Homo sapiens: one gene and its partner. The protein of the gene in region 2 interacts with the protein of the main gene of each other region in a biochemical or structural test. Each region holds a gene or a part of one and is shown on either strand. Other genes may lie near its edges.

Region 1 (7,267 bases), on a different chromosome or scaffold from region 2:
AAAGGTCACTAAAAGGGCTTAAATAATTCCATAGAAAACAGAATACAGAGCATAAGCTAAAATTACAATAGTTAATCCTTTACAAGAGCCATATTCACATACTTTCCTTATGGGACCATCATTACACGTGGCTTCACAGGATGCTGTGCTGGATTTTGGTTCTTAGGAACACACCTCCTCCCTGCAGTTTCCACTGTGACTCTCACAGCAGCACACTAAGGCAAGAGACGAGCTGTGGCACTGCTATTTTAACACCTGACTCAAAGTCAGTAATAAATATGACCACTTTTAAACACTACAAGGGCTATCATAATCTTTTGTTAAAATAAAAATCATTTCTGCTGTTGAAATGATTTTAGATATTTAGAAACATTTCAAAACAACATCTATGAAGTATGTTTATGAAAGCTGCCCTGGAATAAATTATTCAATATCAAATTTGATCCTGGGCCAACCCAAAGATGCATGATTCTTTAAAAACTATAGTGCATTTTTGTTCTAAACAGAACAAAGCATCTGAAGAAAAGTACTGATTGTTAGAGTAAATCAAAATTTGGCACGTTCTAGGAAAACATAATTTTAAAAAACTATAGGTCACTTTCTAAGTTTAGAAACACTTCTGGACACTGGAAAGGCAATGTAAAAATACTGATTAAAATAACTTTTGTGAAAATATTTCCAAAGAAATCAGATGCAAGTTTTATACATCAGAAACTTGTTCAGTAAAAAGCACAGTAAAAGCTTAGAATAAACAAACTGAAGGAAACCCTAATGTGCCTTTAATCCTAGAGCTATTTGCCAGCATAAAGAGAATTCACAAGAACTCTCTTTGAGGGTTAACTTTTCCTGTTTATAGTCAGGTAGTTTGGGTTGTTTGCTTTTATATTTTAATTATTTAAAGAGCTATCTGAATGAAGCTACACACTTCAAAAACACTAAATTGCAAGTGGGACCAAATAATGGCTTCCAAGGTTTTACGAATTTACTAACTATGGTACTACATAATACTTCTTCTTGCTGGCCTATCATATTCTTTAAATATTTCACTTAGTCGATGAGCTTCAGATTTAAGAATAAGAGTGGAAAGGAGAGACAAGAACTAAGTTTAATGCAACATTTTTGTTTTTTGTTATTTATTTGTTTGTTTATTTGAGATGGAGTTTCGCTCTTTTGCCCAGGCTGGAGTGCAGTGACACGATCTCAGCTCACTGCAACCTCCACCTTCTGATTTTAAGCAATTCTCCTGCTTCAGCCTCCCGAGTAGCTGGGATTACAGGCACCCGCCACCACGCCTGGCTGAGTTTTTTATTTTTAGTAGAGATGGGGTTTCACCATGTTGGCCAGGCTGGTCTTGAACTCCTGACCTTGTGATCCACCCGCCTCAGCCTCCCAAAGTGTTGGGATTACAGGCGTGAGCCACCGCGCCCGGCCACATTTTTAGATTAAGATTCCAAAGACGGCAGCATTTGCTTTTTAAAGAACATGTTATACTAGAAAATGTTTTTACTGAGCAAGTTTCTAAGATTAACTCTTGATATCACTTTTACTAGACCAAGTTAATTTTAAAAAACCATAATAGTGGTCTCATATACTGGCTGTAATTTTTTGCTTCCACACACCATTTGAACATTTCCAATAAACTTTGCCTGTCTTTATATTTTTATTAAGATGACAAATGAACTTTGGGAGGCCGAGGCAGGTGGATCATGAGGTCAGGAGATTGAGACCATCCTGGCTAACAAGGTGAAACCCCGTCTCTACTAAAAATACAAAAAATTAGCCGGGCGCGGTGGCGGGCGCCTGTAGTCCCAGCTACTCGGGAGGCTGAGGCAGGAGAATGGCGTGAACCCGGGAAGCGGAGCTTGCAGTGAGCCGAGATTGCGCCACTGCAGTCCGCAGTCCAGCCTGGGCGACAGAGCGAGACTCCGTCTCAAAAAAAAAAAAAAAAAGATGACAAATGATTTTAAAGATTATGGTATCAAGTCAAAAGTAAACCAAGATTTAAGTAAATTGGGTGTTCTAAGTGCAATCATATCATACGGCAACGCAGATTAAAATATTTGTATTTCTCAGTATACATATGGTGAAAAATTCTGAAAAAACAAGTTATTGGGTATTATCCATATGCAAATTTACTTATCTTGATGAACACTTCAGACTTTAATTATGGCAGATGAAACTTATTAATCAAAATGGTTAAGGCAATTTTCAAATTTGTGAAATTTGATGTGCAGACAAATTTGTAAGTTTTAACCTTAAATGATAGTCAAATTTTGGTAATGGGTGGACATATGCTGATTTCCTCCCATTTAATTTAAACCTTTTTGATGATGATGTGATATAATCACATTTATTTTATGTTATAATCAAATAAAACTATCTCACTTGATGTACTCATGAATTGTTTGCTCAGAATAAATATTTAAAAAGCATTAAAGAAGTATAAGTTTATGTAAATCAGATTTCTTGAGATAACAAGGCATCTATAAAATATGAACCATTTTATTGAAGAACAGTTATACAGTGTAGCTACAGATACTGACTAGATACTAAATATTTCTGCCTGATTTTTCATTGTCTTCACAAGTTAGGGAATAGAAATCAAAAAACCAAAAATCTCAAATGATTTAGCTGTCCAGAACATATTTGACAGTTGATAAATTTATAACAGCTCTGACATATAAATTTCTAATTAGAGAATCCTTTCATTTGAAAAAATTGAGATGATATTACCCTAATGAAGTTTTTACCTGAAGTTAACAAAGTCCTGGATTTGATATATTACTTTGAATGCATTAATTCTGAAAATTTATATTTAGTTCTACTTTATAACATTTCTTCTCTTAAGGATGGGATATGAGGTACACATGAGCTGGTTTCTACAGTATGAATGTATGTACATATATAAAGTATGGTTGTAAAGGAGTGGGTGATTTGCAAATAAAGCACATTATACACAAAATATAAATAACTTCCCTTTTAAAAGTTACTGAGAATAAAGAATATAGAACATGGTTATAGGCACTTACATTGCTATCAAATGCAGGAATTCACTTCAATAAGAAGTGCTTTCTTTGTAAGCATGGTTCATGGCAATAGAAGCTCCAACTTTGGAGAGGATGCTTTCCGTGACAAAAATAATAACCACAAAAAAAATGGTGGTTGAAGGAAAACAGTCCAAATTTACAGATGCTTTAAACTTCTTTTGGCCTTGGCATCAGCTTTCATGTTAAAAAATAAAGCTGGTGGGGAAGCTATCTCACTTGCAAAGTAAATGGCTTGTATGAGATTGGCGAATCTTGGTCAGATATTGCATTTTTAAAGCACAAAACCACCGGCCACCAATATCTTCCTGTGCATGCATATAAATTATTTTCTTCTAATTCAAATGGCAGCAGAGGAATCCCGGCGTGCATGTGCATGGAGACACACACACATCACTAAGGACACAGGACAAACTATCATAAAATAAGCAGTATCCCAAACACATCATCATCTATAGGCTGTTTTACAAAGGTAGAATACAAACGAACTGAAAGTCTCAGGTAAAAGGCAAAGTCTATTTCTCCATCTCTGCTGCGCTCATTTATCTTCTTAAGGCTTTCACAGAAAGCACCGTTTTATGAACAGGCAATTCAGTACCCAGAGCTTGACTGGAGACACTAATCAGGATTGAAGTCTTGATGCAGTTCATAAAAACCCACTTAAAAAAAGGCATCAAAAACCACATTTAAAATAAAGCTGTCCATATATAAAGAATGAAGTGTTTAGAAGTTCCCAGCTTGTATCCTAATAAGAGTACTGAAAGGTTTAATATTAGCAGCCTGTGAACACGTAGTGAAGAAAGAGTCTGAGAACCAAGTTAACATCCTTATTCCACTCTAATTCCACCCATGCCATGGGTAAAAACAGTTCTTGCAGTCTAGAGTTTCTCCTCCGATGGTTTAACCATCAGATTTTTACATCTTGGGATTCAACCATCTTGGCAAGCGTCTTCTTAATTCTCAATGCTGTGAGTCTGGAGGCTGGATTGTGGGCCCAGCATTCTGACATTAGCTTCAAAACTGCTCGTAGACACTGAAAAGTAAAGAGATGTTCAGTGAGCAGAGAATATATTTGGTGGCATTTACGAATCACTTCTTCAGGGGACTGAGTTCCACTCACTTCATCACTGTTCCACCGATTAGACACAATTGGCCGCAAACGTTTGACACACACAACCTCACGCATATCTTCGTATGACGGATCACTCGGTACCATGTTGTAATATGGCAATTGGTATTCTTCCACGATCCCTATAAGGGAATGAGAAAACATGGGCACAAAAATGGTTGCTGGACAAGATATACCAATCTAGTAAGCATCTTTTGCTAAACTATGGAACTAAAACGGATTCTTACACAAGAAAAAATATAGACACTATGATTCACTCTTAATAGTAGATGTATGTTTTTCTCTTATTTATGTCCAACTATTTCCTCTACCTCCACCAGGGATGTCATCACAACTGTGATAGAGTCCATCGACAAAGGGCATATCAATCTTCCTTAAAAAAAATAAGCAAGGCGAAATCAGCCATTTACCCTAAAGTATAATTATTTACTTATATGGTTGTTCCTACTAATGAATAGTTTTTATTATTTTGTTTCATTTTGCTCTGCAGTAGAAAGACTTATGAGGTGCAGATAAGGGTTCACACAGCAGGCCTGAGACCTTCCCTTAGGAAAGGCGGCTTGCAAGGTTTGGCCTTGGCCAGTGCCCGGGTACACAAATGGTAAACAGTTCCCTACATGGATATAAAACTTACCGGAAACGGTGAGGGTAACTCACCACTCCTGGGCTGCTTGTGCAAACAATGTGGTGTGTACTGCACGTCTGCTTTCCTGCTGGAATTCTGGTACATGCCAGGCAGAGGATGCCTATGTGACCAGCCTCCAGTAAAATCTCTGGGTGCCAAGTCTCTAAGGAGCTTTCCCGAATGAGAACACTTTGTATGTGTTGTCACAACTAGTAAGAGGAATGAAGCACACGCCCTGACTCCGCTGGGACAGGATTCTGGGAAGCCTCGCCTGGTTTTCTAAACTTGGCTGATTTTGATTTGTATCCTTTCACTGGGATAAATGTTAGCCATTGGGACAACCACATGCCGAGTCCTGTGGTCCTTCAAGTGAAATCGCACAACCTGGGGGTGGTCTTGGGGACTCTGACGTATGTGACATCTAAATTACGTAACTGCCAGCAATTGCACTCCTAGGTGTATACCCAAAAGAAAGGAAATCAGCTAACCGAAGAGATACCTGCACCCTCATGTTTGCTGCAGCACTGTTCACAATAGCCAAGATGTGGAAGCAACCTAAGTGACCATCAACAGATGAACACATCAAGAAAATGTGGCACCTACACACAATGGAGTATCATTCAGCCAGAAAAAAGAATGAGATTCTGCCTTCTGAAATAACATGGAGGAACTGGATGTCATAACGTTAAGTAAAATAAGCCAGGCACAGAAAGACAAACTTCACATGTTCTCACTTACTTGTGAGATCTAAAAATCAAAACAACTGAACTCATGGAGAACAGAAGGATGGTTACCAGAGGTTGGGAAGGGTAGCAGCAGATGGGGGGGGATGTTTAATAAGTAGAGACAAAATAGAAGAATGAATAAGTATTTGGTATTTTATAGCACAACGGGGAGGACTACAGTTAGTAATAATTTAATTGTACACTTAAAAATAACTCAAGGAGTATAACTGGTTGGTGAAACAAAGGATAAATGTCTGAAGGGACAGATATCCAATTCTCCAAGATGTGATTATTACACATGGCATGCCTGTATCAAAATAACTCCTTATCCAATAATATATACACCTACTATGTGCCCACAAAAATTAAAAACTAAAAAGTTATATAACTGGAGCTGTTATTTTTAAAATGATGAGTAAATCAACATAATCAGAAACTACTCAAACTCCCACCTCCTGTGATACAACGACGAGCCATCTCCCAAATGATTAGGCCGAAGCTGTAGATGTCAGCCATGATGTAGGGCTGGAAGTGGTTTTTGTTCAGGCTTTCGTCCAGCACTTCGGGAGCCATGTAGCGTTTGGTGCCCACCCTGGTATTCAAGGGCACATCAACTTCATTTGTGTCACTGAAACAAAAGAAAGCCAAGGTCCAAGTTGAGGGCCAAAAATAAAATAGTTTATCTTGTATTTTTGTCCTATTTTATAAAAGCTTCTTTTTCTCCTTGGGGCCAGATGCATTGTGGAATTTAGCATTTTTCAGATTTTTCTTTAAATACATGCTACATACTACATGACATCCTCAGCAGGGTTGGGGCAGCACTCTTAATCCAACTCAGTACTCAGTACTGTGTCTACAGCAAAACACTAAGTCCGATAGTCCTCCTCAACTGGATAAGGGCAATACACACCTCACATCCGTTCAGGTCAGGTTTTGTCACTAAATAAGTCTGGTGTCTAAGAAAGAGGACAACACTGAATATAAGATAAAGTTAAGCCAGGCACGGTTGCTCATGCCTGTAATCTCAGCACTTTGGGAGGCCAAGGCGGGCGCATCACCTGAGGTCAGGTGTTCAAGATCAGCCTGGCCAACATGGTAAAACACTGTCTCTATAAAATACAAAAGTTAACCAGGGTTGGTGGCACATGACTATAATTCCAGCTACTTGGGAGGCTGAAGCACGAAAATTACTTGAACCTGGGAGGCGGAGACTGCAGTGAGCCGAGACCATGCCACTGCACTCCAGCCTGGGCAACAGAGTGAGAATCTCTCTCAAAAAAAAAAAAAAAAAGAAAAGAAAAGGAAAAAAAAAAGATAAAGTAGTAGATAATTATGTCTGAGAAGTGGTGAATATGAAAATACAAGAGGAATCGCTTGCTTTTACCACTCTCATATGATACACTAAGGCTTTGTGACATAGGATTACATTTTCTTCTTTATGGGTCCCATCAACAGAGTTCTGTTGTTAGCAATGTTTACATGATCATACTGACAATTAGTAATAATTACTCTAAAGCAGTGATCAATATAATGCGTTGTATTTTCCTATAGCATCTGATAAATATCTGAGCCAACAAATACTACACTGACTCAGAACACTGTAACAGATTTAAATGTCTCTTACAGTTGTTTTAAAGACTGGTACTTTTATATTACAGCCTAAAATGAATTCTGAAATGTAAAGCAGCCACTCCATTCTAGAATTACAAGATTAAAATGGTTTCAAAGGTTTCCTAAAAATTTG
Region 2 (7,197 bases):
AACATTAAGAAGTACTCAGGTCCTTATGCTAATAGTAAAGATAAAAAGTTGGTCTTTGGAGTGGAACGTCTCAATAATTCAAGGAGGCTAGACCTCAGTCTTTTAAACATGACAGCTACACAGTTTACAAGATTTTTTTTTTTTTTTTTTGAGACAGGGTCTTGCTGTCACCCAGGCTGGAGTGCAGTGGTGTGATCTGGTGATCTGGGCTCACTGTAACCTCCACCTCCCTGGCTCAAGCGATCCTCCCACCTCAACCTCCTGAGGAGCTGGAACTACAGGCGTGCACCACCACACCCGGCTAATTTTTGTATTTTTTTTTTTTTTTTTTTTTTGTAGAAACAAGGTCTTACTAGGTTGCCCAGCCTGATCTCGAGCTCCTGGGCTCAAGTGATCTGCCTGCCTCAGCCTCTCAAAGTGTTGCTATTACATACCTGGCCAAGATATTTTTATTAAGTTAATTCTAAAAGCAGCAACTTACATCTTCAGGAAATGCAGTTGAAAGGGACCAATGTAAAATTTAATATAAAATCCAAGACTGAAGTTGCAGTTTATTGCTAATAAGGTAATATAGAATATGTGTTTAATATGTCAAATTAATAAACAGCATGTTTACAAAATAGAAGCTATTTGGTCAAGTGTGTTATAAATGTATAACAGAAACCCTCAGAATATATAAGGAACAAGGACAACTACAGGTTTAAAGGATTTGTTGCGTGAATTACATGGTGCCTTAATAAACACTTGGAGACAGAATTCCCGTCCTATTCCCACTATCACTGGAAGTATGGGATGAACCTGTGCTTTCTGGTGAGGGCTCCTCATTTCTTCATTAAGTGGGGCAGGGAGATGGGACAGGCAACGTATTGCCAGAAAACTGAAGGCCATCTGCATGAAATGTCAGCCAAGCAACCAGATGTTTGATTGGATTGGCTCCCACATCCGGCTTCTTGATCGAATTCCTCCTCTTTCCACCCAGATGTTTTAGAAACACAGAGAACTTCATGAAGCTTGTTCCGGGCCCGCAGAGGAAGGGGCGGTAATATTTTGGTGTCCTGCAGGGGGCGAAGTTACCTCTAATTTTATCAAGTCGGTTCATACATTCCAGCGGACTTCAAAGCCCAGATCTGCTCCTGTCCCTCCAACTCCACCCACCCCATGCCTCCTCCTCTTGAATCACATGTGGACGTTGTCTAGCTCCCTGTCCTGAGGCTTCCAGGGGAGCACTCGGGCTGTCTAATGGGGAAGGGTCCCAGAAGCAGGGAGTAGACAAGGTGGGGGTTAGGGGATTTTTATCCACCTAGAGGTCCAACTGGCTTGGAGAAAGAGTAGTCCCAATTTCAAGGTTATTAAAATCCTAGAACTGTATCTCTTCCTGTCCCCTTTGTCCCAATGGATACAAGGGCTTGCCTGCATGTGTCCCGCAAACATGATGTGCACATGTTGGGAGCCATAGTGGACAGAAGAGGAGCACATCCTCAGTTGGATGTCACTGTCCTTATGATCATTGTAATGTCTCACTGCACAGTTTTTTTAGGAGCTTCTTCTGGCTCTTAAGGGAGATGTGCGTTCTCATGTTCATCACCTGGAGGTACTCTCGACACCTCCTCATTCTAGCCCCATTCGACAGAAACTGAGAATCCATCTTGGTGGAGTGAGGAGCCTGCAACAGACCTGAATCAGAGTTGCTGCTCAGATGTTTAGTTGATAGTCACTTTAGACTCATGTCACATGAACCCATCTACTTCTTAGTGTCTAAGGAAAGGGAGAGATGGCGTGCGTGTGTGTGCATGTGTGTGTGTGTCTTCTGCACTAGGTCCACCCCATAGATGCATACACAAGTTGAGTATCCCTTATCCAAAGTGCTTGGGACCAGAAGTATTTCAAATTTCAGATTTTTAGATTTTGGAATATTTGCATATACATAATGAGATACCTTAGGGATGGGATCCAAGTCTAAACATGAAATTCATTTATGTTTCGTATATATCTCATATACATAGTCTGAAGGTAATTTAATACAATATTTCAAATGATTTTGTGGATGAAAATTTTGACTGTGTTTTGACCATGTCCCATCCTATGAGGTCAGGTGTGGAATTTTCCATCTGAGGCATCATGTCAGCTCTCAGAAATCTTTAGATTTTGGAGCATTTTGGATGTCAGATTTTTGGGTTAGGGATGCTCAACCTCTACAATAGGTGGGTCACCCCTCGATTTTGTGTTTTAAATGACATAGCCCCACCAAGGTGCCCTCATCCATGCTTGAAATGTTGAGTTTCCTGTGTCTTCCCCACTGCCCTCGTAGGTAGAAAGTCTTTTACTCTGCCTGCATCTCACCAGAAGTCTTATGAGGAAGGTGCAACTAGGTTTAAAAAAGGAGGCTCTTGGCAGGAAGCCTAGGTGTATTTGCTGGAATTTCAGATCTTCTGAGCAGAGCTCTTGGCTGCTGTGGGGCACTGCAGTGAATTTATGTCCCTAACATGTTCCCTACAGAAAAAAGAAGTGACAGGGCTCTTGAATTCTGAGGGTCCGGGCATCCCAGACAAAGTATCGTATTATCTTTTCGGATGGAAGAAATCCCTGTAGAGATGGTTAAAGACTGGCATTCACATAAGTTTTGTGCCCTGAAATTCATAGCTATCAGATATTTGTAGAAATAAAGACTCTTCTAAATGACCACTTGTGTCTGGGCCAAGGCAGAACTAGAAAGAAGGACTCAGTGGGTAGTTGGAGTCAGTGGTGGTCTCTATTTACCCATGAGAAATAGATTCTTGGAAATAGGATAGGAATGCTTATAAGATTTGGACCAACAGAAAGCCTATGATCTCATAAATTCATGAATCCCACAGTCTATAATCTATTTGACTTCACTCTCAAATGCCTAGGACCATTTGGACTAAGGCTGGCAAGTCAGAAAATTGCAGTTTTTATTTTCAACTCCACACAATTTTCACCAAGTAAAAAACCTTCATGTTTTACGTGAATTTGCTTCTACGATCCATAGATGACTGGATGTTCTCGGGCGGGGTAAAGGCAAATGAATTTGTGTCCTCATTGGCAAATGGTGTTGGTGGTGGTGTTATCTTGTCTAAAATCCACAGGAACCTGTGTTTCAGGACCCTGTCTATTGTCCTGACCATTCAGAATGCATGCCAAGCCCCTGCTCTTCCTGGAGTTATCTTTATCACCTCTCCTCAAGTTTTATCTTGCACCATATAAGTCACATTGTATTTCAATATTAAAATGCAACATTAATAGATAAGCTGGAGAATCAAGACATTTCCAAGAAGACAGGGGACGCCTTTTCTAATATATCGTCTGATTACACCCTCTTTCTTTTGGGTGCTAGCTTAAGAAGCCAAACCAAAGCACAAATGAACAGAGAAGTCAACACATCCGACCCCAAACCCTCAGGACGCTGGCTTGGGTTACATGTGGCCCTCTCTGTGGTCAGTTTGTGAGTAGCCTCCCCGGAGGGTGTGTCCCAACTTCCAGCAGCTGCCGTGGAAAGCCACGTGTCCGCTAAACGCCTACATTACATCAATAAGAGAAACTAAGGAAGGGATGGAAAAGCTATCATTTTTCTTTTCTTCCTCAGTTCTGGCAGTATAGTGATTTAATCGCTGTTATTATTTTTATTTAGTTAAAGCATCAACTTAGGCCTTTTAAATGATGGTAAAAGAGAAAGCTTCAGATCGGGGTATTGGTCAGATCATTCTTACTAGCGATGACCTCTTCGCCTTTGGCACCTCGCGGCTCTTCGCATGCCTCCAAGAATTCCCGGGTCTTGAAACCTACGCGCGGCGGAGGCGACGCCTCTCGGGAGAGGGAGGGTGAAAGAAGGGGCGGGGCTATTTAAATAGCCCGCGAGCTTCGCGTCCCCATTGGCTGCCAGCCTGTCGGTTACCGCGGGGCGGGGAGTCCCGGGGCTGGAGTGAGGTACCTGAGCCGGGCGCGCAGCAGAAAGCCCACGTTGGCCGCTGCGGGGAGCGCGGCGTGGAGAGGCGGGAGACCGAATTCCGGCGCCGCCGCCGCGGCCGCTGCTCGGTGCACTAGCCCCCTTCCTTCCCATCCTTTCTGCGAGCGGGTTTGCTGGGCAGCCGGGCGACCGCCGAACGGAAAGCAAGATCCTCGCCGCCTCCGCTTGAGGAGGCGTGCGGCGCGCGGAGATTTTGAGTGGGAGCGACGGTGCCCGAGAGCTCAGGGGCGCGGAGTTCGTGAGCGAGAAGGAAGTTAAACCTCGCGGAATAGACTGGCATTTCGGGACGCCTTGTCGCCGCAGCCTGGGCCCTGCAACGGGGTAAACTTCATGGTGGCCCTGCGATCTGGGGAGGGGCGTGCGCCACGGTGATGCCGGGCATCTCCCGCAGCTCGTGAGCGGCCCCGCTCCCCGCTGCCCCGGGTCCCACTCAGTCGCCAGGGAGAGCGCGGGGCAGCGCACGTGTGCGGCCAGCGAGGCCCAGAGTGACCGCGCCGCGACTCGCAGGAGCCAGGGCGCAGGCTGCAGTGCAGCCCGGACTCAGACGCACCTGGCCTGGACCGCGCGCCTCTAGAGACCTGCGCGAGGCTGTGAGGCTCCCCTTCCTCCCCTCCAAGCGGTTCTCCTGGTGATCGCCCCTTCGCCACCTCTCTAGCCTGGGCAACTGGGGGCGCCCCGGACGACCATGAGAGATAAGGACTGAGGGCCAGGAAGGGGAAGCGAGCCCGCCGAGAGGTGGCGGGGACTGCTCACGCCAAGGGCCACAGCGGCCGCGCTCCGGCCTCGCTCCGCCGCTCCACGCCTCGCGGGATCCGCGGGGGCAGCCCGGCCGGGCGGGGATGCCGGGGCTGGGGCGGAGGGCGCAGTGGCTGTGCTGGTGGTGGGGGCTGCTGTGCAGCTGCTGCGGGCCCCCGCCGCTGCGGCCGCCCTTGCCCGCTGCCGCGGCCGCCGCCGCCGGGGGGCAGCTGCTGGGGGACGGCGGGAGCCCCGGCCGCACGGAGCAGCCGCCGCCGTCGCCGCAGTCCTCCTCGGGCTTCCTGTACCGGCGGCTCAAGACGCAGGAGAAGCGGGAGATGCAGAAGGAGATCTTGTCGGTGCTGGGGCTCCCGCACCGGCCCCGGCCCCTGCACGGCCTCCAACAGCCGCAGCCCCCGGCGCTCCGGCAGCAGGAGGAGCAGCAGCAGCAGCAGCAGCTGCCTCGCGGAGAGCCCCCTCCCGGGCGACTGAAGTCCGCGCCCCTCTTCATGCTGGATCTGTACAACGCCCTGTCCGCCGACAACGACGAGGACGGGGCGTCGGAGGGGGAGAGGCAGCAGTCCTGGCCCCACGAAGCAGCCAGCTCGTCCCAGCGTCGGCAGCCGCCCCCGGGCGCCGCGCACCCGCTCAACCGCAAGAGCCTTCTGGCCCCCGGATCTGGCAGCGGCGGCGCGTCCCCACTGACCAGCGCGCAGGACAGCGCCTTCCTCAACGACGCGGACATGGTCATGAGCTTTGTGAACCTGGGTAAGGATTTGGGGTAACGTAATGACGAGAACATTTCCCCCTTTTCAGTGTCCCGGGCCCAGGGGATGGAGTGAGGGGGTGGAGGAGCTCCCGGCGCGCGGGTCCCGCCTGGTGCGCCAGAGAACGCGGGGACAGGCAGGCTGTGCTCCCGCCACCTGCGCGGCGGTGGGCGGCACATGCGCTCCCCCGCGCCGCGGGCAGGGCTGCGCGCCGAGGCCCCCAGAGGCGGCTGGCCGGCCGGGCCGCGGGGCTCCGGGAGCGCTGTCCCCAGCGGGCGTGTATTTGCGGACTCCCTGAGCACGTTCCGCGCTTTTTTTCACTTCTGCCCAGCTCTGGCCAGGTTAACTCAACTGCAGCAGGAGAGTCCAGCCCGAGTGTGGCCATCCTGGGAAGAGGGCTCTTCAGTACGATTTTCCCCTCTAAACTGCCGCCTTTTGCCCCCTAACTTGGAGTGCAGTTTTCCCACCGAGACTTTTAGGGAATCCGACAGCGGCTGGGAACTTTGAAAACTTGGCATGAGTATGTTTAGAGGTATCCACGGCACTAGGGGAGGTTGCAGAGGGAAGTCCCAAAAGGACCGCGGAAGGCGCTCGGATCCCGGCCGGGCGGGGCTCGCTTCTGTTTGGGGCGGGATGAAAGCTCAACTGGGGTAATCCATCCTGTGCCCCGGCTCACATGCCCTTGGCCATTGTCCCCAAAGGCTGAACCTTTGATCAATGCAGCCCAAGCTGCACGGGCAGAGAAAGGGTGCGGGGTAGGGGCCGGGGTTGGGCGCTGAGCTCCTCTGAACCGGTTGCCAGGCAACAGAATGGAAATTCACGGGCGGCTAAATGGAGCTCCGCCACAAATGTTCTGTGGCAAACCCGGACCCAGTCACATCGCCCTTTCTCCCCCCTCCCACCCCACTGAGTTTTCTCATCTGTAAATGAGAAGGGTGCAGAGAAGACTCTTTTCTTCGGAGTCAGTGCCTCCGGTTTGCACTGCTTTTCATTCATAAGCTGACTTAGTTTAGCGCAGACATAGGATGGAGGGACGCGCTGTCAGCGGACAGATCATGGGTGCACTGGCTACGCCCGGGATGGTTGCAGCTGCGCGGCGGGGTGGGGCTTCACGGGCCTCCTTCCCATGTGAGACGGTGGTTGTGCCCAGGCCCTGAAGTGGGTGAGCAGACACTCGCCAAAGGAGCACACGGGTCTCCCAGCCACGTCAAAGACGCTCATCTTTTAACGGCATTACTTACTGGAATGATTCCCGCGTAGACTATCTGGGTGATTTCTTTACCAGCCTATCTATGATTCCCAACTCCACTGAGCTTTGAGGGAGAGAACATGGGGGGTAAGAGCCAAGGGAGGGTGTGGAGGCAGGGCGATTGGCATCCAAGTGGTGCAGAAATCCTCCTGGGAAATTCGTGAAACAGAATCTCACAGGAGTCCAGGCTCAGGGCCTGCCAATCTGGCTGCTTGCACTGCCCGGGGTTCTGATTGGACAAGAATTTTCACAATTTATTGGAACCAAATCCAAGGTTGAGCCACCTCCAGGAAGCATTCTAAGGAAATTCTCATGCCAGTCAATAAAATTTGTAGTGGGTGGGGGCCAGGGTGGCAGAGGACCAGCGCTGTTCCTTATTCTAACTTTTCTGCTGCTTCTGACTTAGTAAATTCCTCCCCTTGCTCTCTTCCTCTCCTCTCCTTCCACCCTCACCCCCCGCCCCC

Evidence for each region. The genes of interacting proteins can lie anywhere in the genome.
Region 1: the proteins of BMP6 (region 2) and BMPR1A form a complex in vitro, tested with the Homo sapiens proteins (one study listed by BioGRID).

Annotation. Positions count from the first base shown.
Region 1 is NC_000010.11:86,920,404-86,927,670, reverse strand, and holds part of BMPR1A (bone morphogenetic protein receptor type-1A isoform 3 precursor), read right to left. Parts: intron 6,152-7,267; coding exon 5,976-6,151; intron 4,296-5,975; coding exon 4,165-4,295; intron 4,078-4,164; coding exon 3,952-4,077; 3' UTR 1-3,951. UniProt on the Homo sapiens protein: On ligand binding, forms a receptor complex consisting of two type II and two type I transmembrane serine/threonine kinases.
Region 2 is NC_000006.12:7,722,135-7,729,331, forward strand, and holds the start of BMP6 (bone morphogenetic protein 6 preproprotein), read left to right. Parts: upstream 1-3,964; 5' UTR 3,965-4,821; coding exon 4,822-5,485; intron 5,486-7,197. UniProt on the Homo sapiens protein: Growth factor of the TGF-beta superfamily that plays essential roles in many developmental processes including cartilage and bone formation.